2 separate regions of the Homo sapiens genome follow, and region 1 is linked to region 2. The links come from fine-mapping of genetic effects on gene expression. A gene starts in region 2. The other region holds a variant in brackets. All regions are shown on one strand. Distances are between the middles of the regions.

What was found. PIP is the estimated chance that this variant, and not a neighbour inherited with it, causes the effect.
Region 1: its variant is fine-mapped to the expression of PABIR3 in whole blood (TOPMed, PIP above 0.99). The same link has a PIP of 0.9 or more in thyroid.

Annotation. Positions count from the first base shown.
Region 1 is chrX:134,834,009-134,839,389 of GRCh38, forward strand. All of the region lies in intron 4 of PABIR3 (PABIR family member 3), which reads left to right. Among named protein-coding and RNA genes, the nearest start is that of PABIR3, 29 kb to the left of the region's middle. The variant C/T (reference allele first, on the strand shown) is at 3,024.
Region 2 is chrX:134,805,109-134,810,489 of GRCh38, forward strand. PABIR3 (PABIR family member 3) reads left to right here and starts at 2,129. Exons shown (of 11, transcript NM_001388447.1): 1 at 2,129-2,233; 2 at 2,432-2,600. The coding sequence starts at 2,491. RefSeq lists enhancers at 2,486-2,645, 3,031-3,987.

The DNA.
Region 1 (5,381 bases), 29 kb after region 2:
TTATATTCCTTTGGGTATATACTCAGTAATGGGATTTCTGGGTCAAATGATATTTCTGGTTCTAGATCCTTGAGGAATCGCCACACCGTCTTCCACAGTGGTTGAACTAATTTACATTCCCACCAACAATGTAAAAGCGTTCCTATTTCTCCACAGCCTTGCCAGCATCTATTGTTTCTTGAGTTTTTAGTCATCGCCATTCTGACTGGCATGAGATGGTATGTCACTGTGGTTTTGATTTGCATTTCTCTAATGATCAGTGATGTTGAGCTTTTTTTCGTATGTTTGTTGGCCACATAAATGTCTTCTTTTGAGAAGTGTCTGTTCATATCTTTTGCCCACTTTTTGATGGGGTTGTTTGTTTTTTCTTGTTTCAGTTCCTTGTAGATTCTGGATATTAGACCTTTGTCAGATGGGTAGATTGCAAAACTTATCTCCTATGCTGTAGGTTGCCTGTTCACGCTGATGATAATTTCTTTTGCTGTGCAGAAGTTCTTTAGTTTAATTAGATCCTATTTGTCAATTTTTGCTTTTGTTAGAATTGCTTTTGGCATTTTCATCATGAAGTCTTTGCCCATGCCTATGTCCTGAATGGTATTGCCTAGGTTTTCTTCTAGGGTTTTTATGGTTTTGGGTTTTACATTTAAATCTTTAATCCATCTTGAGTTAATTTTTGTATAAAGTATAAGGAAGGGGTCCAGTTTCAGTTTTCTGCATATGGCTAGCCAGTTTTCCCAGCACCATTTATTGAATAGGAAATCCTTTCCCCATTGCTTATTTTTGTCAGGTTTGTTGAAGAGCAGATGGTTGTATATGTGTGGTGTTATTTCTGAGGTCTCTGTTCTGTTCCATTGGTCTATATCTCTGTTTTGGTACCAGCACCATGCTGTAAAACAGCATTTTCTGCCTGTTTTTTGTTCCATGCCTCTTATTTATTGAAGAAACCAGGGAGTCCATTTGTCCTGTAAAATGTCCCACATTCTGATTTTGCTTCCATGTGGTGTTACTATGTTGTTTTATCCTCTATTTCCTGTTAAATAGTTTTTTTAATTTTTATTTATTTATTTATTTAGACGGAGTCTTACTCTGTCGCCCAGGCTGGAGTGCAGTGGCACGATCTCGGCTCACTGCAACGTCTGCCTCCCTGGTTCAAGCGATTCTGTAACCTCAGCCTCCCGAGTAGCTGGGATTACAGGCGCCCACCACCCCACCCAGCTAAATTTTTTTTTTTTTAAGTAGAGAGGGGGTTTCATCATGTTGGCCATGGTAGAGAGGGGGTTTCACCATGTTGGTCTCAAACTCCTGACCTCAGGTGATCCGCCCATCTTGGCCTCTCGAAGTGCTGGGATTACAGGCATGAGCTACCGCGCCTGGCCTCCTGTAAAATAGTATGATGAAATTTGCTTTTAATTTTAAATGAACACACAGCTCCAAGTCAATGTTAGGTTCTGGGCCAATATTTGGTTTATGTTACACCTTTCCTATTAAGCAGGTAATGGACAATTTCTTCTCAACTGTTGTTGTTAGCTGTTTTCTAAGTATTAAAGAGACTGAGACATCAAGCTAGAAGTTAATTTTCTAAACACAGTTATTATTCCTACATAGGAATTATTTTGTGTAATTTTCCTTTCTAATAAAAATTTTATTTTATTTATTTATTTTTCAGACAGGTTCTTGCTGTGTTGCCCAGGCTGGAGTGTAGTGGCATGATCATAGCTCACTGCAGCCTCAACCTTCTGGGCTAAAGTGATCCTCTTGCCTCAGCCTCCCAACTAGCTAGGACTACAGGTGCACACCACTATGCCTGGATAATTTTTTTATTTTATTTAATTAATTTATTTATTTCTGAGACGGAGTCTCGCTCTGTTGCCTAGGCTGGAGTGCAGTGGCATGATCTCGGCTCACTGCAACCTTCGCCTCCCGAGTTCAAGCAATTCTCCTGTCTCAGCCTCCCGAGTAGCTGGGACTACAGGCACCCACCACCACACCTGGCTAACTTTTGTATTTTTAGTAGAGACGGGGTTTCACCATATTGGTCCGACTGGTCTAGAACTCCTGACCTCAGGTGATCCACCCGCCTCGGCATCCCAAAGTGCTGGGATTACAGGCATGAGCCACTACGCCTGGCCATTTTTTTAAATTTTTGGAGAGATGACGTCTCCCTGTGATGCCCAGGCTGGTCCTGAAATCCTGGCCTCAAGTGGTACTCCTGCCTCAGGCTCCCAAAGTACTGGCATTACAGGCATGAGCCACCACGTGTGGCCCCTAATAAAAATTGAGCTTGTATTCCAAAAGATCCGAATGCATTCAGTCTGTAGTTCCCTGTTTCCCAAAGCTCTAAACATAAATTAGTGCCATGCAGAAACAGTTTGTATATTTGCTCAGGCTGCCATTGCAAAGTATCACAAACTGGGCGGCTTAAACAACAGAAATATATTGTTTCACATTTCTTAGGGCTAGAAGTCTGAGATAAAGGTGTCAGTAGGGTTGATTCCTTCTGAGAACTGTGAGGGAGGATCTGCTCCAGGCCTCTGCCCTTGGCTTGTTGATGGCTATCTTCATGTTCACATAGTGTTCTCCGTGTACATGTGTTTGTTTCTAAGTTTCTCCTTTTCATGAAGGACAGCGGTCATATTGGATTAGGGCCCACCCTAATGACCTCATCCTAATCTGCTTGCTTCTGAATATATTCTGTCTCTAAATAAGGTCACATCCTGAGGCACTGGGGATTAGGACTTCAACACAGGAATTTGAGGGGACACAATTCAACCCATAACAGTCTGCTCACAGTTTTTTGTTATATAGCTTTATATTTAATTCCTGATTTGTTAAACAGGATATGAGTCATTGGCACCCAGTAACAACTTAACTTTCTCTGTAGTGTCTTAAGTAAAAATCAATAAGAAGAAATTGAGCTGGGCGTGGTGGTTCGTGCCTGTAATTCCAGTGACTTGAGAGGCCAAAGCAGGAGGATCACTTGAGGCCAGGAGTTCAAGACCAGCCTGGGCAACATAAGAAGACTC[C/T]GTCTTTAAAAAAATTTTTTTTTTAATTTGCTGGCCGGGCACGGTGGCTCACGCCTGTAATCCCAGCACTTTGGAAGGCCGAGGCGGGTGGATCACCTGAGGTCAGGAGTTCGAGACCAGCCTGACCAACGTGAAGAAACCCCATCTCTACTAAAAATATAAAAATTAGCCAGACCTGGTGAGGCATGCCTGTAATCCCAGCTACTCGGGAGGCTGAGGCAGGAGAATCGCTTGAACCCGGGAACCAGAGGTTGCAGTGAGCTGAGATTGTACCACTGCACTCACTCCAGCTGGTGTGACAAAGTAAGACTCCTTCTCCAAAAAAAAAAAATTTAAATTTGATTTTAGTTTACAGATTGTTTCATTCTTTCAACAAGCCTTTATTGGGTACTGTGCAGGCACTCAGTAACTAAAATCTTTCAGATGTAGTCTCCTCGGAGAGCAAAAGTTGGTAACTTACAGTTCCCATTTTTACCATGTATCCTGAAAAATGGAAAGCTAACTTTAACATCCAAGTATAACAATTCTCCTTAAACTAGGTTTCTAGTATACTGTACTCTGCTTCTTACAGTTATAATGCATGGCTGTTGACCTTTTATACTTATTTTAATAATCTTATTTTATTATAAACCATCTCAAATCCATTTTGGAAATAGGCAAGACATAAATGAAAAAGAGTCAACACTCTTCTCCTAACAACCTTCAATAGCTGATTTTAGCTAATGCTCCAACTTTCAGTGGGAGGAATATTAAGCAGAATTCTATCTCAGTTTCACAAAACTACCTGCTCTGTACTTGTTGACCGAATGAACTACAAAATACTTTGAGTTTCACACTAGAGGAGACTATCTATATAATATTAAATTGAAGAACTATACTAACAATTACATTTTGCTGAATTTACTGTTATTCCATTGCTTTTAAAAGACTAATTATCTTCTTAAATTACCTTTTCCAATTCCCTCATTTTCTGTACCTCATTGTGTGGTATCAAAATAGTCACAGTTTTAAGACTCAAAGCTCTCGATTTGATACCTCATTGTATGGTATCAAAATAGTCACAGGTTTAAGACTCAAAGCTCTTGATTTTTCTTCAGTTCTTCCTTATTTTTCTACTGTATCCAATTAGGCTTCTAATCCTACTAATTCTTCCTTGACAATATCCTCTTTGTTGTCACTGCTGCTTCCTTCTTCTGTCCCATGGGTCTAGATTACTGAAATAATATCCCAGTAGATTTTCTGTTTCTCCCAGTTTATCCAACTTCCACAATGAAGACCAAGATAAATGTTTTTTTTTTTTGGAACAGAGTCTCGCTCTGTCGCCCAGGCTGGAGTGCAGTGGCGCAATCTCGGCTCACTGCAACCTCTGCCTTCTGGGTTCACGCCATTCTCCTGCCTCAGCCTCCCGTGTAGCTGGGACTACAGGCACCTGCCACCACGCCCAGCTAATTTTAGTAGAGACGGGGTTTCACCGTGTTAGCCAGGATGGTCTCGATCTCCTGACCTCGTGATCCAACCACCTCGGCCTCCCAAAGTGCTGGGATTACAGGCACAAGCCACTGTGCCTGGCCAAATTTTTTTTTTTTAAAAAACATCATTTTCCTCCCTCTCCCTCTCCCCCTCCCCCTCCCCCCTCCCCCCCTCCCCCCTCCCCCTCCCTCTCCCCACGGTCTCCCTCTCCCTCTCTTTCCACAGTCTCCCTCTGATGCCGAGCGGAAGCTGGACTGTACTGCTGCCATCTCGGCTCACTGCAACCTCCCTGCCTGATTCTCCTGCCTCAGCCTGCCGAGTGCCTGCGATTGCAGGCGCGCGCAGCCACACCTGACTGGTTTTCGTATTTTTTTGGTGGAGACGGGGTTTCGCTGTGTTGGCCGGGCTGGTCTCCAGCTCCTAACCGCAAGTGATCTGCCAGCCTCGGCCTCCCGAGGTGCCGGGATTGCAGACGGAGTCTGGTTCACTCAGTGCTCAATGGTGCCCAGGCTGGAGTGCAGTGGCGTGATCTCGGCTCGCTACAACCTCCACCTCCCAGCCGCCTGCCTTGGCCTCCCAAAGTGCCGAGATTGCAGCCTCTGCCCGGCCGCCACCCCGTCTGGGAAGTGAGGAGCATCTCTGCCTGGCCGCCCATCGTCTGGGAGGTGAGGAGCCCCTCTGCCTGGCTGCCCAGTCTGGAAAGTGAGGAGCGTCTCTGCCCGGCCGCCATCCCATCTAGGAAGTGAGGAGCGCCTCTTCCCGGCCGCCATCCCATCTAGGAAGTGAGGAGCGTCTCTGCCCCGCTGCCCCGTCTGGGATGTGAGGAGCGCCTCTGCCCGGCCGCGACCCCGTCTGGGAGGTGAGGAGCATCTCTGCCCGGCCGCCCCG
Region 2 (5,381 bases):
AGGAGATATTCTGAGGCATCTCATTTTTTTTTTTACTTAAACAGAAGGGCAGAGGAATCTTGGCTTTGCCACTTAGTAGTTGCAACTTGAGTAAACCCCTCTGGGCTTTGGTTTCCTCCTGTGAAAAATGGGCATTGTGATGGTGCCTACCTCAAAGAATTATTGTAAACTTTAAATGCAATCACCTATTTAAAGTGATTAGGACAGTACCTGGCACATAGTAAGTGCCCAACAAACGGTAGCTATTACTAATCTGTCTTATATAAGGAATGGAGACTCCACATCATCCTCATGTCTGGGATTTAAGTAATCTAATTCTGCCTAATATACTCAAGTTTGTCTTATTCTATTCCCAGAATGAACAAAGAATACATATTTATTACCTTACATGTCATAACTTGTCACGAACTATCTCAAGACTGTCCCATTATTTTAAGTTCACCACTGGGTAGCTGAGCAGGGTTGATGATTGAACCAATCCAGATAAGTATGTGAAAACATTTTGTAGGCCAGGCGTGGAGGCTCATACCTGTAATCCCAGCACTTTGGGAGGCCGAGGCGGGTGGATCACCTGAGGTCGGGAGTTCGAGACCAGCCTGACCAACATGGAGAAACCCCATCTCTACTAAAAATACAAAATTAGCTGGGAGTGGTGGCACATGCCTGTAATCCCAGCTACTCTGGAGGCTGAGTCAGGAGAATCGCTTGAACCAGGGAGGTGGAGGTTGTGGTGAGCCAAGATTGCGCCATTGCACTCCAGCCTGGGCAACAAGAGCGAAACTCCGTCTCAAAAAAAAAAAAATGTTATCCGTAAAGTGCTATACCAGTGTTATGACTATTTTAATTAATAACTCCCATTTCACTAGGTTTATTTGCCTTGTCTGCCAGTTCTCTATATGGTTACTAAAATGTGTGGTTTTACAAAATTATTAGCATGGAGTTAAGATTTCAGTACTCAGTGTGGCTCATTAAGTGATGGTGAAAATTTCTAAAAGAGTAGTTCTTAAAACGATATGAGCCATGGCAGCATTCTTAGAATGTATGTAGCTTCTAATACTACCTGAAATGAAAACACTGATTTGCATTGATACTAAATTCTGAGATATTTGTTTTTAAAAAAGCCTCACTGCTTTAACTCAAATCTTTGTAAATTAGCTGAGGTCTTTATTTTTTATATGAATAGCTGTGAGGAGCCAGATTATATATAATGTAAAAATACACACTGAGGCAGGCGCGGTGGCTCACGCCTGTAATCCCAGCACTTTGGGAGGACGAGGCGGGCGGATCACCTGAGGTCCAGGAGTTCGAGACCAGCCTGGCCAACATGGTGAAACCCCGTCTCTACTAAAATACAAAAATTAACCAGGCGTGGTGGCGAGCACCTGTAATCCCAGCTACTCGGGAGGCTGAGGCAGGAGAATCGCTTGAACCTGGGAGGTGGAGGTTGCAGTGAGCCGAGATCGCGGCCACTGCACTCCAGCCTGAGCAACAAGAGCGAAATTCCATCTCAAAAAAAAAAAAACAAAAAACTGTACGATTATGGTTTAAAAAAGAAAGAAAGAAACCACACTGAAAACAGTAATTCGTTTGCCAAATGAGCTCAGTTAGGTTAGCACCTTAGCAAGACCCTTTGGGACCAAGTGGCCTCTAAGCACTTAGGTAGCAGTATCTTTTTTTTTTTTTTTTTTTCAGACTTTTGCTTTTCTAAAATTACAAAGGTGTAGTGTGTCTGCTGTTACAGGATGGAAAAATGCATCATAGGAGGTTAGAAGCTTGTTGGCCTCAGTCATAAAGGGATAAGAAAAATGAGAATTAGGCATAGGGCAGGAAGGACCTCACTCCTCCCAACGCTTTCATTTCTAAATAATGCTTAAGGAAACCATGCCAGGGTTAGTAAAAGAGTAGAGGCACAACCACGGTAAGTGGGCATTGGGGAAAGAGGAAGGAGGGCAGGACATGGGGATAAAGCGGTTTCTTAACTGCGCGTGCGCCCCTGGCAAAGCTGACTAAGGCGCCTGAAGTGACGTCATTGCCTGCATCACAACAGGCGTCGTCCGGCTGATAGCTTATCGCAGGCTCTGAGGGGCGGGACCCAACTGATTGTCAAAGGCGGCAGATTGTAGTTTTTGTTTTGGCCGGAAAGGCTTACCATGAGTTGCCAGGGCTGAGAGAGATGGAGAAGGATTCGCGGCGGTGACAGATTAAATTCCCCAGTTACATTATAGACTTGGAGGTGGGGGATCTTCTCATCGTTAGAGGCCCCGATCATGGGAGATAGGCGGTTCGGAGCCAGTTCTGCCTAACTTTGTGTTCACTGATGTTAGGGCTGCTAGGGCTGCAAAGGTGGGCACCCCTACTCGCCTAAGAGCTTTCTCCTCTCTTCTCTTTTTCCCCTTTGCCTCTCTCCTTACATCACCTGCCCACTAAGTAGACTTGTCCTTGTGTGGACGGGAGCCGGAAAGCCTTGAGAACTTATTCCTCGACCCGGACATGGCACAGGAGAAAATGAAACTAGGTTTCAAGTCGCTGCCGAGTTCCACTACCGCAGACGGCAACATTCTGAGAAGAGTCAACAGTGCCCCTTTGATCAATGGACTTGGGTGAGCCGGGTTGAGATACTGGAGGAGGCAAGCGGTGGGGAGGAGGTGTTCGGGAAAGTGATTTCCTATAGAATTCCCGTCCCTTTATTTGTTGAGGTTCTGCAGGTAACTCCCTTGTTCCTGGTGTCCGGAGATCCCACCCTCAACCTTGGGTGGGGGTAGTGGGACGGGCTGACCTGAGGGGGAGCGCGCACCCACCCTGAGGTTGACAAACATCTGAATCTGAACATCCTCCCCTGATAGTCCACTCGGACCCGAAAGTAGCAGCCAGTTGGTGTGGAGCACGGCTTTTTTCTAACTTCAACCCATTTCTTACCCACTCCTTTGAAGAAACTTAGTATCCTCCCCCACTCACCTCCAGATCTTCTGCCATGACTGTAATATTTGTCATTTCAGCTGCTTTGTCACCTCTGACCTTCACCTCCAGCCGCTTGAATGGAAATGGTTGTCAAGCAAATAAGCTTTGGACTTTTTTACATTTTTTTTTTTGTCTTTTTTTGAGACGGAGTCTTGCTCTGTCGCCCAGGCTGGAGTGCATTGGCACGATCTCAGCTTACTGTAACCTCCGCCTCCTGGCTTCAAGCAATTCTCATGCCTCAGCCTCCCTAGTAGCTAGGATTACAGGCGCCCACCACCACACCTGGTAATTTTTTGTATTTTTATTTTTTATTTATTTGTTTATTTATTTTTGAGACGGAGTCTCACTCTGTCGCCCAGGCTGGAGTGCAGTGGCGTGATCTCGGCTCACTGCAAGCTCCACCTCCCGGGTTCACGCCATTCTCCTGACTCAGCCTCCCAAGTAGCTGGGACTACAGGCGCCCACCAACACTCCCGGCTAATTTTTTGTATTTTTAGTAGAGACAGGGTTTCACCGTGTTAGTCAGGATGGTCTTGATCTCCTGACCTCGTGATCCGCCCGCCTCGGCCTCCCAAAGTGCTGGGATTACAGGCGTAAGCCACCGTGCCCGGCCTAATTTTTTGTATTTTTAGTAGAGACAGGGTTTCACCATGTTGGCCAGGCTGGTCTCGAACTCCTGGCCTCAGGGGATCCGCCTGCCTCAGCCTCCCAAAGTGCTGGTATTACAGACGTGAGCCACTGCTCCTGGCCTACACCTATTTTTTATTGGAGCAGAAAGTTTTGGTACCACAGAAGCTTGATCTCCTAAATTACACATTCTCACTGGGTGATACTTCCCCCAAGGGGAAGAGAAAATAGTTCTTGGGGGAGTGTGAAAAATTTTTACTCTTTTTATGTATAAAGCGCAGATATACATACAGTATGTACACAGATATATACTATATATGTGTTATTAAAATTTCACGAAGGGGGAGCAATTAGGGGAAAAATGTCTAAAAAGGCTTTTTAGAGGGTCAATAATGAAAAAAGGATTTAGAAACACTACACTAAATGATGGTTAACTGTATTTCTGAAGATCTGGGATTACTAAATCTTGTTTCCTTTTTTTTTTTTTTTTAAGACGGAGTCTCACTGTGTCGCCCAGGCTGGAGTGCAGTGGCATGATCTCGGCTCACTGCAACCTCTGCCTCCCGGGTTCAAGCGATTCTCCTGCCTCAGACTCCCGAGTAGCTGGGACTTCAGGCACCCGCCACCACGCCCACCTAATTTTTTGTATTTTTAGTAGAGACGGGGTTTCACCGTGTTAGCCAGGATGGTCTTGATCTCCTGACCTTGTGATCCGCCCACCTTGGCCTCCCAAAGTGTTGGGATTACAGGCGTGAGCCACTGCGCCTGGCCTAAATCTTACTTCTTAAACTAGACTTTTAAAATGAGATGTTGGATTTCACATTTCAGTATTATAAGGTTTTCTAGATACCGTAAAAATGTCTGAAAAATGCATTCACTACATATGTTACTAACTTTGCTCTTCACCTTTTGTTGCATCATACTAATTGATAGTTGTAATTCACAGTACCATAGACTATCAGGAAGGGATTCAGAGACCAGCTTTACCCTCCTTGTTTAACATATGAGGAAACTGAGGCCCATAAATCTCCAAAATGACGTTTAGTGGCAGAGCCAGTACTAGGAAGCTCTGTTTCCTGACTCCTAAACTACTGTTCTGGCCACTACTAACCAATACCTAAGCTGATTAACTCTAAATGAATGCAGCTTTTGGGTCATTTGAGGTAGGAGAGAATATATTGTTCACAAAATGAAAAGCAAACTAAGATTGACCAAAAAAAAATACATTACCTTTTTAAAATAGGCAGGTAGAAAAACATAGAAGGGGGACTCTGCATGTTGTGCTGAGAACAAGAACATTTTATTCACTCAGGATTTTGCTCTAATTCTGTTGTGGGAAAAAGGAATTATGGGACCCACTCTACTAGTAGAAGAGAGCAGTAGGGAGAATGTTGGATTTATTGAAGACAATATAAAAAGAAGAAATAGGTTGCAAATAGACGATGGAAGATGTGTACTGGAAGGAACCTGTGGATCCTCTTTAATGTATTAAATACACCAGAGAAGGAGTGGACCCTTCCCTAATCCTTAAAGCCCTGGAAACAGAGAGATCTCAGTTATCCCTTCATACCTTGCTTTGTTCTGCAAAGGATTTTTTTGTTTTGTTTGTTTGTTTTTTGCTTATATTAGAGCATAGCTACAGTGTTACATTCCATAGCTTAAGATCCTGATGCATGAAGTAAAATTTGTACAGAAAGATAAGGGTCACTAGCATATTTCTGTAGTAGGAGTTTAAAGATACAGAAACCACAAAGTGGACGGAGTCCAGGGACTCTAGTCTGTCAGAAAGAAGTAAC